Homo sapiens: one gene and its partners. The protein of the gene in region 4 purifies or fractionates together with the protein of the main gene of each other region. This does not show direct contact. Each region holds a gene or a part of one and is shown on either strand. Other genes may lie near its edges.

What was found. Proteins that work in one complex are often made in the same cells at the same time.
Region 1: the proteins of PRTN3 (region 4) and ITGA2 purify together in Homo sapiens (affinity purification with mass spectrometry; one large-scale study listed by BioGRID and IntAct). This does not show direct contact.
Region 2: the proteins of PRTN3 (region 4) and FBXO21 purify together in Homo sapiens (co-immunoprecipitation; 2 studies listed by BioGRID and IntAct, with this or other methods). This does not show direct contact.
Region 3: the proteins of PRTN3 (region 4) and PUM1 purify together in Homo sapiens (affinity purification with mass spectrometry; one large-scale study listed by BioGRID and IntAct). This does not show direct contact.

Annotation. Positions count from the first base shown.
Region 1 is NC_000005.10:53,055,165-53,058,854, forward strand, and holds part of ITGA2 (integrin alpha-2 precursor), read left to right. Parts: intron 1-373; coding exon 374-524; intron 525-819; coding exon 820-985; intron 986-2,860; coding exon 2,861-2,937; intron 2,938-3,690. UniProt on the Homo sapiens protein: Integrin alpha-2/beta-1 is a receptor for laminin, collagen, collagen C-propeptides, fibronectin and E-cadherin. It recognizes the proline-hydroxylated sequence G-F-P-G-E-R in collagen.
Region 2 is NC_000012.12:117,176,968-117,180,657, reverse strand, and holds part of FBXO21 (F-box only protein 21), read left to right. Parts: intron 1-3,016; coding exon 3,017-3,138; intron 3,139-3,690. UniProt on the Homo sapiens protein: Substrate-recognition component of the SCF (SKP1-CUL1-F-box protein)-type E3 ubiquitin ligase complex.
Region 3 is NC_000001.11:30,950,715-30,954,404, reverse strand, and holds part of PUM1 (pumilio homolog 1), read left to right. Parts: intron 1-423; coding exon 424-691; intron 692-2,041; coding exon 2,042-2,171; intron 2,172-3,690. UniProt on the Homo sapiens protein: Sequence-specific RNA-binding protein that acts as a post-transcriptional repressor by binding the 3'-UTR of mRNA targets.
Region 4 is NC_000019.10:843,859-846,386, reverse strand, and holds part of PRTN3 (myeloblastin precursor), read right to left. Parts: intron 2,495-2,528; coding exon 2,353-2,494; intron 241-2,352; coding exon 10-240; intron 1-9. UniProt on the Homo sapiens protein: Serine protease that degrades elastin, fibronectin, laminin, vitronectin, and collagen types I, III, and IV (in vitro).

The sequences.
Region 1 (3,690 bases), on a different chromosome or scaffold from region 4:
TTGATAAAGTAAACACAAGACTAATGCATAAAATTTATAACAGAAATATCTTTGCTTTATTAATTCATACTGATTAATTCAACTTTCTTAGAAGAAAAGAATTCTAAGGAATACTGGGATAAATACATGCACACATATACACACATATGCCCTGACACACAAGACATTGTTTTTAATGTCAAGCAAGACTTCCATTTGTATATGTTTCTCTACAAGCTACAAATGGAACATTAAATATGTCCTCAGAATTAATATGGAGTTACAATAGATTGTGTTTAAAGAAGCTAGTTTCATGTTTCTATTTTAAACCAGAGGTTCTCATATTAACTTCATATTTTGATAGCAAGTCTTTATTTAATTTTATCTGCCACAGAAAATATGCTTATTCAGCAGCTTCTGGTGGGCGACGAAGTGCTACGAAAGTAATGGTAGTTGTAACTGACGGTGAATCACATGATGGTTCAATGTTGAAAGCTGTGATTGATCAATGCAACCATGACAATATACTGAGGTTTGGCATAGCAGTAAGTGGCTTTTCTTTTCACTTGTCTTGCCGCTATTGGGTAAATCTTTCTTTATAGCATCACTTCTCAAGGCTGCACTTTCCCATTGGCTGTTCATAGTTGAATATAAAAGAAAGTTCTTACTCTATCTCTGCTTCTTGATGATTTTCAATCCTGTCTACTAAATAAAGGGTTATGGAAATGTTGCTTGATTTACTTTTCCAGAGGGAATATTGTGTTCAAAATAGGCTAGAATGTACTCATAGGGAAAATGTACAGCAGTAATGACTGCACATTCTCTTCCTCTATTTTCAAGGTTCTTGGGTACTTAAACAGAAACGCCCTTGATACTAAAAATTTAATAAAAGAAATAAAAGCAATCGCTAGTATTCCAACAGAAAGATACTTTTTCAATGTGTCTGATGAAGCAGCTCTACTAGAAAAGGCTGGGACATTAGGAGAACAAATTTTCAGCATTGAAGGTAAAAAAAATAACCTCCTTTCAAGAATTTTCTTCAAAATGTTTAAATAATTGTTTATTATCACATATTTGCTTTACTAATGTTAACTTGTATACCATGTATAAAAAGAGCTACTACAATCAGTAAGAGAAATGGATGAAAAACATGAATAAATAGTTTATAAATGATAAAATACAAATGACTGATAAACATAAGAAAATATTCCCAATTTACAAAGTATATTTCTAAATACTTTCAGTAAGTATTTAAAAACATAAATTAAACCGACAATATGTTTTGCCTAAAAGATGACACAGAATAATAATGTTTAATCCTGGAGAGATTATCAGGAAGCAAAGAAGCTCATACACTGTTGATAGGATGATAAATTGTTATGACTTTTGGGGGACAATGTATGAATATCTATCTATTAGAATCATAAATAGTTTTACCTTTTTACACTGTGTTATGTAAGTTCTAAAATTCTTGAATTTGTTTACAGTAAGCATATATATTTTTAAAATTAGAAAAATACAGCAAAGATTTTTAATAGTTCAGTTTTTGAGGAAGCATTTTATTTATAGGACCTAAAATAATTTACTTAGGTGGCCTTGGAAAATCTAGTTAGTGCAGAAAGATCACGTGTTCAGGAGCTCACTGTGTGGGGGACTAGCACACACTTCACAGTTGGTTAAAAGAAAAAAAAAACACACATCACCCAAATCCTAGTTCTTGATGGTTAACCCGAATAACTCTTTGCAATAAAGACCATATGTTATTGGAAACCTATGTATCAGGTACAGCCTTAGAGTCTGGGGCTAAAGGAATTGCATAAATTATTCATTCATATACTCAAATCTTGATTTGATTATCCATTGGAATTACCCAAAAAGCATTATTGCTTCTTCAGTATCCCATGGTGCTTCAAAGTTGTTTAAATAACCATTTAAATCCAGCATACCCTGAGATAACACAAAATCACTAGGCTATCCACACTGATAATTGTATTTGTTTGTAGTGGAATGAATGAGAACAATTGCAATCTACAAGCTAGCTAGAAATGATTTTGAGCATTATTTGCTATTATGGACTTTGGGGAACATTATTCTATTTTATTAAAAAGTATCTCTACTCATCCTGTGTAAATTATTTTATCTTCTAAATAAGACTATGTTGTACAGTACAGTTTGTCTTCTTTTCTATATTAAAGTGTGAGTCCAGTAATTTAGCTTCCTTTTGTGAAGATTAGTGAAACGTAGCCATTTTGATCACACTGTATGGAAAATAAGTACCAATTGCATCTTACAGTGTTAGTGACACAGGCAAGCACATATACAGAACCAGAACAAACTTCCCAATTGGTAAAATTCCTACTCAGTCTTGAATTCTGATTCCTAATAGCTAACTCAGTTATCTCCCAGCAGTCTTCACTACAGATCAATTGCCCAGCCCTTCCAACTGCATCTGAGATATGTGTACATTATCAGTACCCATATTTCAAAGCTAAAAATTCAGTTAGTTTCTTAGCTAGTAATGATCAAGTTTTTAAAAAATTATCATCTCAGTTTTCACCTTACCTTATACCCTTTGTTGAGTGTCCTTTGGTATCAAGAACGTCATACATATTCTGCTAAATACATTAATGTTCAATTAAAGTTAATGCCAACTTTGAACACTACCTTGGAAGTGTTGTTATTTCCATAACCTGCTAGAACACTTTCTTAGTAATTTCTTCTTCCCAGAATATGCAAGCTCTGTATTTTTGGGTGAGTATTGGAACAGTGTGTGTTTGTGTTTGTGTTTGTAGGCATGTGTGTACATACGTGCCTGCTTGTGTTTGAAAACTTGATTTAAAATTACTGACAGTAATACAATTTTTAAAATTGAATGTTCCAGGTACTGTTCAAGGAGGAGACAACTTTCAGATGGAAATGTCACAAGTGGGATTCAGTGCAGATTACTCTTCTCAAAATGTGCGTATATCAGATAGCTTCAAGCCATGTTGTCATTTGGCATAACACTTCCAGACACAGTAGCCTTATACATAAAATGGGAAGACAGCCATCTAGGGATCAGCCCTTCTGATTCCTAGTCACGGTCATTTAGTTTCTTTGTGCTGCTGATTTACCTCTAAAATTTGAAGGATAATAATGTCTTCCCTTCCCTGTTTCACAGGGATCTTATATGGGGGAAAACTGATAGTATACCAGAAAGTCTTTGAGTACCCCAGGGCACAGACTGTATATTAACTTAAGGTATTATTCCTGCAGGAATTTTCTTTGAATCAATTAACTACTGGAAATGTTTGTTAAAAACACGTACTCTTGTCATCACCGTCATGGTCGAATTCTGAATGGTCATAGTATCTTTTTCTAAGAGCAGACAGAAAAGAGTTGAAAAAATAAGGAGGTAGGAAAAACGTGAGGTGGAATTGGAATACAACACTGTCTTTTCAGCTCGGGGAAGTCTATTTCTATCTCTCAGAAACATCCACCTCCTGGGCCCCTGATTCTAATTTGAGTCAGGAGGTGAGAGAGATAGTGAAAGGAGGCGAAAAAAAAAAGAAAGAGATCCTGGGAATTATTTAAGGAACAGTAGGAAATCCCAGGATTTGATCGGCAGGTCAGAGGACCAAGAACAGCTTGTTTTCTATCTAGAATCAAAGGAACTGACTTTTTCTGGATCATCAATCCTTAGAGATGCTCATAGAAGTTATGGATCTTTCC
Region 2 (3,690 bases), on a different chromosome or scaffold from region 4:
GAGACTCCGTCTCAAAAGAAAAAAAAAAGTGATGAAAACATTAGTCTTGTTATTCTGAGGGCTGGTGTGTGTGTATGAGAGAGAGATGTGGAATGAAGTAAATGAATAACGATGTGATATTCTAATTTTACCACCTGTGATATCCTGGAGAAGCAGAATTCTCCTGGAATAAAGAAGACATAGATATAAGATAGAAGAAGGTCAGAGACATATATTTTTGAATTAGAAGTGCCAGTGTGAACTCAAAAGGTATTTTATATTTAAATACATGTAGGTATATGTAAGTGCATGTGCATATGTACATGTACACACACGTGCACATCAACACTAGGCTTCCTACGTCTGTTTGCTGAAAAGATCTAGAAATAATAACCAACCTAGTGGAATTGATCTTCCCTGGTTTCCAGATTGTCATCTTGATACAACATTTTCCACAAAAGAAGCCAGGGTTTTTGGAGAAAGACTGATTGTATGTCCAATGCAAGGATTTTAAAAGATGAGCCTGGTGGTGCATCCTGGAAACCTAACCAGATAGTAAGAAAACTGACACTACTTTATGTCGGAAGTATTGAGGAACCAATATGAAGAGGCTTCCAGTGGCCAAAGATGTGACAGTTAGAGCATCAGTGTGGATAATAACAGGAATGGATTGAAATGCATCGAATATGCTTGTCTCTCTGAGTCCATAATACTAAAAAATTAATTGGTCACCTTTGAAGGATAAATAGAAGCCCATATCATTGTTTTGAAAAATTGTAAATAGAAGATATGAGCATTTATCCTGCCTTTTCCATGTACTGTATCATGGGGGATCAAATAATAGACGGGGAGGTTTTTCCTTATAGAAGTATCCCAGCTAATGAATTAAGAAGGGTTGATTGAATTTTAATATCACCACTTCGTAACCTCAAATGAATGAACAGATCAAGACATTGAGTAGCAGTGCTGCTGACATCACAAAAGAAACACCCAGGCATTATTGCCTCCTGATGGGAGAATGCACTACCTTCTATGAAATTATCTTGCTAAATTAATGGAATCTGTATCTCATGTAGCCTCTACATCCAATTTACAGGAGATCAGAAGACAGAAGAACATGTTAAACTACATCATGTGGGTACAGTCAGCAAATTTCAGACGATGGGAAACTGCAGGTCAAACAACCCAGGTTCTTCAACAAATAAAATGCAAGGGAAAAAAAAAAGATGGAGGAGGATCCTGTAGATTAAGAGATTTAGAAGGCATCAAAACAGACTCGCCTGTTTAGGGATGTATATTTCATGGTAATACTAAAGAGAAAAGCAAGAAAGTGATGACCATAGAGGTGTGGTTTGTGATTATTGTTGCGGGGGGCCCCGGAGGGCTTCTTGGCCGTTTGCAAAGTTTTCTTTCTTGGCAAGAGTGTTAGATCCAGGAATGTGCCTTGTAATGATTCATTAAGCTACTTGTTTGTTTCACACAATTTTCTAGATTGATATATTTTACAACTCAAAGGTTAAAAAGTAGATGAAACATAGATCATTCTGCAGATTTTCATTGACCTCTCTCAAGATTGGCAAGTTGTTTGTTTCTTCATGATGTCAGCCAGATAAGTTTCATCACTGTCTCTCTCCTGCTTCTTATAATCCCCATATGTATTTGGGATATGTGGTGAAGAATTTTATCCACTCAACAAGTGTTATGGAACATCTACTATGTGCCAGATGCTATTCTAGGCACTAGGGATACAGCAGTGAACAACACAAAAAAAATCCCTGCCTTCATGGGGCTTATACTGTAGTGGGCGAGATGGGCACTAAGAAATTGGTTACATTAGAAAATGAAACATGCTATAGAGAAATATAATCGGGGAAGAAGGCAGGGGAGTGGTGAGGGGGTACCATTTAAAATAATGTAGGGGGCCTTACTCAAGGGGACATTTGAGTTGAAACCTAGGAGAAGGTGAGAACAGACTGCAGTCTCTGGAGAGAATGTTCCAGGCAGAAGAACAGGGCACTAAGGTGAGCACCCGCCAGACAGTAAAGGAACAGCTGGAATGCTTGGGTGGCTGGACTGAGGGGGAGTGGCAGGAATTGGGGTCAGAGAGGTAATGGGGCGAGAGTTCAAGAGACCTTTTAAGTCCTCCTTAGGACTTGGGCTTTTTCTTGGAGCGAGGTGGGAAACCGCTGGAGACTTGGAGGCGAGGATTGGGTGGCGTGACCGTACGTGTTACTGCAGTGCTCTGGCTGCCGTATTGAGGATGGACTGTGGAGGGGCCAGGTCTGAAGCGGGAAGCTGAGGTAGGAGGATGTTGCTGCAACACAGGAATGCTGATGGTGGTGTGTGGGAGTAATTGGGAAGTGTGCACATTTTGGATGTAATTTGAAGATAGTACCGATAGCATTGGCTGACAGGTCTTAAGTATGGCTTATGAGAGAAAGCAAGGCATCCAGGATGACTCGCAGGTTTTATGCCTCACTAGAATGATGGAGATGCCTTGATCAGAGATGAGGGTGACTCTGGGAGGGGAAGAAAGATGAAAGTGCTCAGCTATCTGAGTGGGATGTGGAGTAGATGGATAGTAGTTGATACAAAGGTCTAGAGTTCAAGAGAGAACTCTGGTCTGGAAAATAGGAGTTTTCATAATATGTGAAACCGTGAGGAACTCACCATGGCAGTGAGTGCCCAGGCCCAAGTGGCCCAAGCAGGGGGACCAGCAAAAGGTTCTAGATGCCTCCCCATCTTCTGAACCTCCCCCAGCTCAATTCCTTTTTCAGGCTGCTCTTCCATTTCCTTTTATGAAAGATACAGGCAAGTAAGTCTGAAGCCAGGCAGATAACTGTTCCTCAGATTTCAGTACAACTAATTTAGTATTATATTACAATTCAAAGACTGCTATTTCCATTATAATTATTATAAGAGAATGAACCAATTATATTTTTCTTGTTAAGCAAACTACATGGTATGTTAGTGTAATGTGAAAAATAGATAACTGAAAGTTTTCAAATCTTAATTCTTACTGACTTTTTGTTTCCAGAAAAGCTTTGACCTGGAAATACTACGCAAAAAAAATTCTTTACTACCTGCGGCAACAGAAGATCTTAAATAATCTTAAGGCCTTTCTTCAGCAGCCAGATGACTATGAGTCGTATCTTGAAGGTGGGTCTTTTCCCATATATGTGGACAGTAGTATTTCTGTAGGTAACTGATTAGTTTTTTAAGACCAGCAGAGGGAATTGTGTTCCTTGTGGTAAAGAAGTGAAAAAGCAAATCATGTTGCGTGGGCTTCTGCAGGTTGGATTATAGGGCCTGATCAATGAGGTAGTTCAAACTATTAAATTTAGAGCTAAGATTTTATCAAAGTCCACTAAAGAAATAGTGTTTTTTAAAGATGCATCATTGGCTTAAAATGTGAGAGTGATACTTTAGCTAATGAAGTAAATTCCTGTTTTTCCGAGCTTTAATGATCATTTCCAAATCAGAAGTAAATGTATCCAATTTTGTCTCCCTGTGACCTTGAGTAAATCCCTTAACCTCTCAGGTTGGAGTTTATTGAGGACAGAATGTTCTTGGGCATCAGTGAGTCTGCTTGTCCGTAATGAAAGGTGAGAAGGAAGAAGTTGAGTGGACAGGCAAGATGAAGGGAGTGGAGAATCTTTTTGTTCTTATTAAGTTGAACAGGAACAAAGTGAGACTTCCATTTTTTTTAAA
Region 3 (3,690 bases), on a different chromosome or scaffold from region 4:
GGGGGTTATTCAAGAATGAAAGGAATCTCCGCAGATCTCAGAATGGAAAACCACTCCAGTCTGAGTTTGTTTTGCATTTTCTGAGTTTTTATTGCTGGTGCTCAGGTGCTAGGTTCACCTGGTCGGCACATTTCTTCCTCATTTCATTTACTAGGGGCCATGCTAACTGTTGCTCCAGCCTTACTAGCAGTCTACCATCAACGGTAAAAGCATTCCCTTCTCAATCTTTGTGCAAAAGTTTCCTTCCAGGTTGTTGAGTTGACCCACGAAAGTCATGACGCTAATAGAATTGTCTTGACACAAAAACAACAGCATTGAAGAAATCAGAAATGGTGCAGGCTTTCGGGTGTGGGAATGCTTTTTTCTCTCTTGAATGAAGTTGCTGAAGAGTGGTCTTAAGTTATCCTGTTCTGTAACCAACAGGAGGACTCACGAATGGCAGTGGAAGATACATCTCTGCTGCTCCAGGCGCTGAAGCCAAGTACCGCAGTGCAAGCAGCGCCTCCAGCCTCTTCAGCCCGAGCAGCACTCTTTTCTCTTCCTCTCGTTTGCGATATGGAATGTCTGATGTCATGCCTTCTGGCAGGAGCAGGCTTTTGGAAGATTTTCGAAACAACCGGTACCCCAATTTACAACTGCGGGAGATTGCTGGACATATAATGGAATTTTCCCAAGACCAGCATGGGTCCAGGTGAGTACTTGGCTTTGGCACTTTAAGGTACCCGAAATTGTAATGCCTTAACTGTCTTGGCTCAGATGGGTATCTACTTAAATAAATTGCCATATAGTAATTTTTTAAAAGCGTGCCTCTTAGTTTGCATCACATTATTTCATAGGGATTTAAGAAACAAACATGAACACAAAGACATACATACACTTCGGCTGCTTTAAGCATTATGAAGAATCTTTTGCTCTCAAAGAGTTGCTATTCAAATACAAGTTTGATCTAGGGTGCTGAGGAGTAAGACAGCTCTACCACCTTTCTTTGTTGTTCCACTCTGTAGAAGTGACAGTCTATGTAGAGACGAGAGAAGAAACTATTATAGAAGACAGAATTTGGTTTGGTTTACCCCTTCCTGTTGGGCTGCTGCAGTGGGCTTCACAGAAAGCGAATCTGGTCCTGGGGATAGAGCATAATTATGGTGACAACACCCATCCTTCTTTCCCATTTCTGTTTCTGTTTCTTTCTCTGATACTGTGTCCAGTGAAACAGTTTCTACAGAAGCTACCTCCTCCTTAAGTTCTGCCAGCTTGCTACTGGGCCAAAATTTCTCATATTTGAATTCTATAGGCTAGATTCAGAGGCAACATGATTTTCCTGATAGTGGTCATTTGGACTAAAAAAAGGCAGACTGTTACTACTTCAGAAGATAATGAATACTGTTTTGTTTTTGTTTTTTTGTTTTGTTTTGTTTTGTTTTGTTTTTTTGAGACAGAGTCTTGCTCTGTCGCCCAGGCTGGAGTGCAGTGGCGCAATCTTGGCTCATTGCAAGCTCTGCCTCCCGGGTTCACGCCATTCTCCTGCTTCAGCCTCCCGAGTAGCTGATGAGTACTGTTTTATATGAAAATAAGTTAAAGAATATAGTAAGGACTGTAAGCTTTGAGTTCATTGATGTGAGGCTGGTTTCTAAAGGAAAAAAGTCAAGTAGGGTACATGTTGTGTTATGTCTCCCTCCACCCCTCCTCTCTTCCTGCACCCCTGCCCCTCCCGCCCCCCCCCCGCCCCCCCCGCTTTCATCTTCCCTCCCACCTTGCACATAAATAAGATTCAGTATGCATGCCCTACTGGAATGAAATGTGCCAACATTTATATGTAATTTTCAAAGCTCAATTAAGTTAGGACCTTCTTCCTCTATTTAAAAACTCTTCAAGGGAGTTCAAGTGATTCATTCAAATAAAGTTTGGTTTATTGTGTGCATGTGTGTGCACACATGCTCACTCACATGTTTCAGAACGGATGCAGTCTATAAACCGAGGTACACTGATGTATCTCCAGGTCTTCCTTCAGTGCTGTGATTGCCCTTTTTACTTTGTACTTCAGATTCATTCAGCTGAAACTGGAGCGTGCCACACCAGCTGAGCGCCAGCTTGTCTTCAATGAAATCCTCCAGGCTGCCTACCAACTCATGGTGGATGTGTTTGGTAATTACGTCATTCAGAAGTTCTTTGAAGTAAGCCTTTGTTCTTTCTATCCTTTGACTTAAGAGAATCTGCAGAGCATTTTGATTTTCATTAGCCTTTTTAAGCATAGCAGTCCCATTCCAGTCCTCAGAATGAAGGGTGTGTGGTCTTTTTGAAGAGGTTTTTAGTGTTTTTCCAATTCATTAGCAGCAGTCTATCTATTCTGTATGGTTTAAATATCCGAGCAGATAATGCCAATCTATTTTGGAAATGTGTTTCGAAAACTGGTGTCCCCATTTAGGACCCAGCACATTATTTCAGATTGTTATAATAGTTTCACAAAACGTGTCACTTAAGGAGGAAATAATCCTTGTAAAGTAGTTTTAGCAGGATCACAATAAAATATTGCCAAAAACAAATTTTTCTAAGGTTCTTAGAGAATTGTCTTTGGACACCGACTCCAGTATGTTTCATTATCAGCTAGGGTCACAAGAATTGTTAAATGCTGCTTCTTGGCTGATCGTTTGGCCTTGATTTCTTGTTTTACTTCTGTTAATTTGAATAATGTTCACTTGTTGTATCATTGTCTTTGGAAAGAATGAGATTGTTAGGTTGATGTCTTTTCCCTCTAGTGAGGTAAAATTTCAGAGAGGCAGGGACTTTTTTGCTTACCATTGTAGCCCTTATTATCTGGTATTGGCAACCCTAAGGTGTAGATGCAGAATGGCACAAAACTTCGAGATGAGGAGGAGTCTGGTATGGGGAGGAAAATGCTGGAATTCTGCACATTACCTACCACAAAACAAATTTGTAAATGTCTTAACATCTCATCCTGTTTGATTTGTATGAAGATGAAAAACTGACGTACTCAAGTTTTACCTTCCCAAGTTTTTTCATGAAGACTTATGTTTTTTCACCCTGAATTCTTCAGCTTTGGACTAAGAAACCAATCTAAACATGACTTTTGTATTTTTGATTTTAGAATGACTTTGCACTGCCGTTTTGTCACATATATAAAAATACTGAGCTTTCTAGTTCTGGAGGCTGATGCACCTTGGGGTGACAAAATGTACAATGGATTATAGCCATATGATTTGGACCAAGCTTGAGAACTTCTCTGGATCTTAGTTTCCCTTGGGAGAATGAGGAGGTTGGATGGGCTGAGAATTCATAAAGTCTCCTCCAATCTCACGATTATGTGATTGAAATGAAAATAATAAGCCAAGGATGGAAAATCATTCTAAGTAGAATTTTAACATTGTGTAGCCTCACTTCTTGATTCTACTGATTTTTCCCCTCCCAACTCTGTTACCTTGTGTAAATAGGAGAAAAAAAAATCAATTCTCTTAATGATGTAGAATACTATTTCAAAACAGTGTGTCCATGTGTGCTTTGGCAGTAAGAGTGTAGGATTCTTTTTTTTGACACACAGTCTTGCTCCATTGGGCAGGCTGGAGTGTAGTGGTGCTATCTCAGCTCACTGTAACCTCTGCCGCCTGGGTTCAAGCGATTCTCCTGCCTCAGCCTCCGGAGTAGCTGGAGTTAACAGGAGCGTGCCACCATGCCCAG
Region 4 (2,528 bases):
GTTACTTACGAAGCAGATGCCGGCCTTGCGGCGAGGGACGAAAGTGCAAATGTTATGTGGCCGGCAGAAGAAGGTGACCACGGTGACATTGAGCTCCTGCAGGACCTGGGCTGGGGGGTCGTGGGCACCCACGCGGCCCCAGCCCATGGCCAGGCACTGGGTGCCGTGGGGCACTGGCTGGTCCTGCTGTGGCAGCTGGACTGTGGCGACGGAGGCACTGAGGTTGGCTGGGCTGCTCAGCTGGGGCAGAAGGCAGGCGGCGGTGAGACGCTGCTTCCAGGTCACGGTGGCCGCCCGGGCCGCCCTCCCACCACACCCACCACACCCACCACCTCAAAACGCCGCGGATGCCGCTCCCTCCGCCTGGGCCCCACGACCCCCTTTGTCCCATTTGTCACTATTGTATTCATTCATTTTCTTTCCTTCTTTCTTTCTTTTGAGATGGAGTCTTGCTCTGCCACCCAGGCTGGAATGCAGTGGCGTGATCTCGGCTCACTGGAACCTCCCGGAGCCATCCCATTGGGTGAGGTGGCCAGCCTGGTCTCAAACTCCCAACCTCAAGTGATCTGCCTTCCTCAGCCTCCGAAAGTGCTGGGATTACAAGTGTGAGCCATAGTGCCCGGCCATTCATTCATGTTTTCTTTCTTTCTTTCTTTTCTTTTTTTTTTTTTTGAGATGGAGTTTCGCTCTTGTTGCCCAGGCTAGAGTGCAGTGGCACAATCTCGGCTCACTGCAACCTCTGCCTCCTGGGTTCAAGCAATTCTGCTGCCTCAGCCTCCCAAGTAGCTGGGACTACAGACACCTGCCGTCACGCCCAGCTAATTTTTGTATTTTTAGTAGACACGGGGTTTGCCATATCGATCAGGCTGGTCTCAAACTCCTGACCTCAGGCGATCCGCCCGCCTCGGCCTCCCAAAGTGCTGGGATTACAGCCACCGCCCCTGGCCCATTCATTCATCTTCAAAGCACTTTTTTTTTGAGATGGGGTCTTGCTCTGTCGCCGAGGCTGGAGTGTGGTGGCATGATCACAGCTCACTGCAGCCTCAACCTCCTGGGCTCAAGTGATCCTCCCATCTCAGCTCATGAGTGGCTTGGCGTGTGCTACCATGCCCGGTTGATTTTTAAATTTTTCTTTTGTAGGCTGGACGCGGTGGCTCTCTCCTATAATCCCAGCACTTTGGGAGGCTGAGGAGAGCAGATCACTTGAGGTCAGGAGTTCGAGACCAGCCTGGCCAACGTGGCAAAACACCGTCTCTACTAAAAATACAAAAATTAGCCAAGCGTGTTGGTGCATGCCTGTAATCCCAGCTACTCAGGAGGCTGAGGCAGGAGAATTACTTGAACCTGGAAGGCAGAGGTGGCAGTGAGCCGAGATTGCACCACTGCACTCCAGCCTGGATGACTGAGTGAGACTCTGTCTAAAAAAAAAAAAAAAAAAAATGTCTTTTATAGAGATGGGGTCTCACTAGGTTGGTCAGGCTGCTCCCAAACTCCTGGCCTCAAGTGATCCTCCCATCCCAGCCTCCCAAAGTACTGGGAGTACAGGCGTGAGCCACAGTGCCCAGCCCCAAGCACTTACTGAGCACCACCTGTATGCCCAGTCCCGTTCTAAGCCACATGAGTCCAATAACGAACAACACAGACAAAAATCCTCTGCCCTGGGGAGCTGATCTTTCTGGGTGGGAGGAGGCTAGGAGGGCCCCATGAATGAGAGGAGCACGCGGTTCAGTGGAGAACAGTGAATCGGGGAGGGCTGTGGCTGTCCTCGCCACTTCCAGTGAGGTCAGGGGAGGCGCCGGAGGAGGCGAGGGCACCTGGCTTTCTGGGGGAACAGCACACCGGGCGGAGGCGCAGGCAGGGGAGAGGGGCAGGCAGGGGAGAGGCGCGCAGGGGAGAGGCGCGGGCGGGGGAGAGGCGCGGGCGGGGGAGAGGAGCGGCCGGGGGAGAGGCGCGGGCAGGGGAGAGGCGCGCAGGGGAGAGGCGCGGGCAGGGGAGAGGGGCGGGCAAGGGAGAGGCATGCAGGGGAGAGGCGCGGGCAGGGGAGAGGGGCGGGCAAGGGAGAGGCGCGGGCGGGGGAGAGGCGCGGGCGGGGGAGAGGCGCGGGCGGGGGAGAGGCGCGCAGGGGAGAGGCGCGGGCGGGGGAGAGGCGCGGGCGGGGGAGAGGCGGGGAGGAGGAGTGGCCTGGTGTCCAAGGAGCGGTCTCCCCCGGCCAGTGCCACTGGACCCAGGCTGCAGCGGCCTCGGTCGTGGCCCGGTATACAGTGGGTGCTCAATGAATGCTGGCTGCAGGAATGGGGGTCCCGGAGCCCTCTGGCCGTGCCCCTCCGAGCCCTCGCGGCCCTGCCCGCCCACCTGGATGAGGAGAACGTCGTTCAGTTTGTTCTCCGCGTCGTAGTTGTTCAGAAACACCTGAGCCACCGAGAAGTGCTGCTGGGTGGGCTCCTGCGTCCGCACGTTGTGGGCTCCGAGCACCACGTTCACCAGGCGCTGGGGTCTGCGGGGGTGGGGTGGTCACTCCTCGGCGCCCT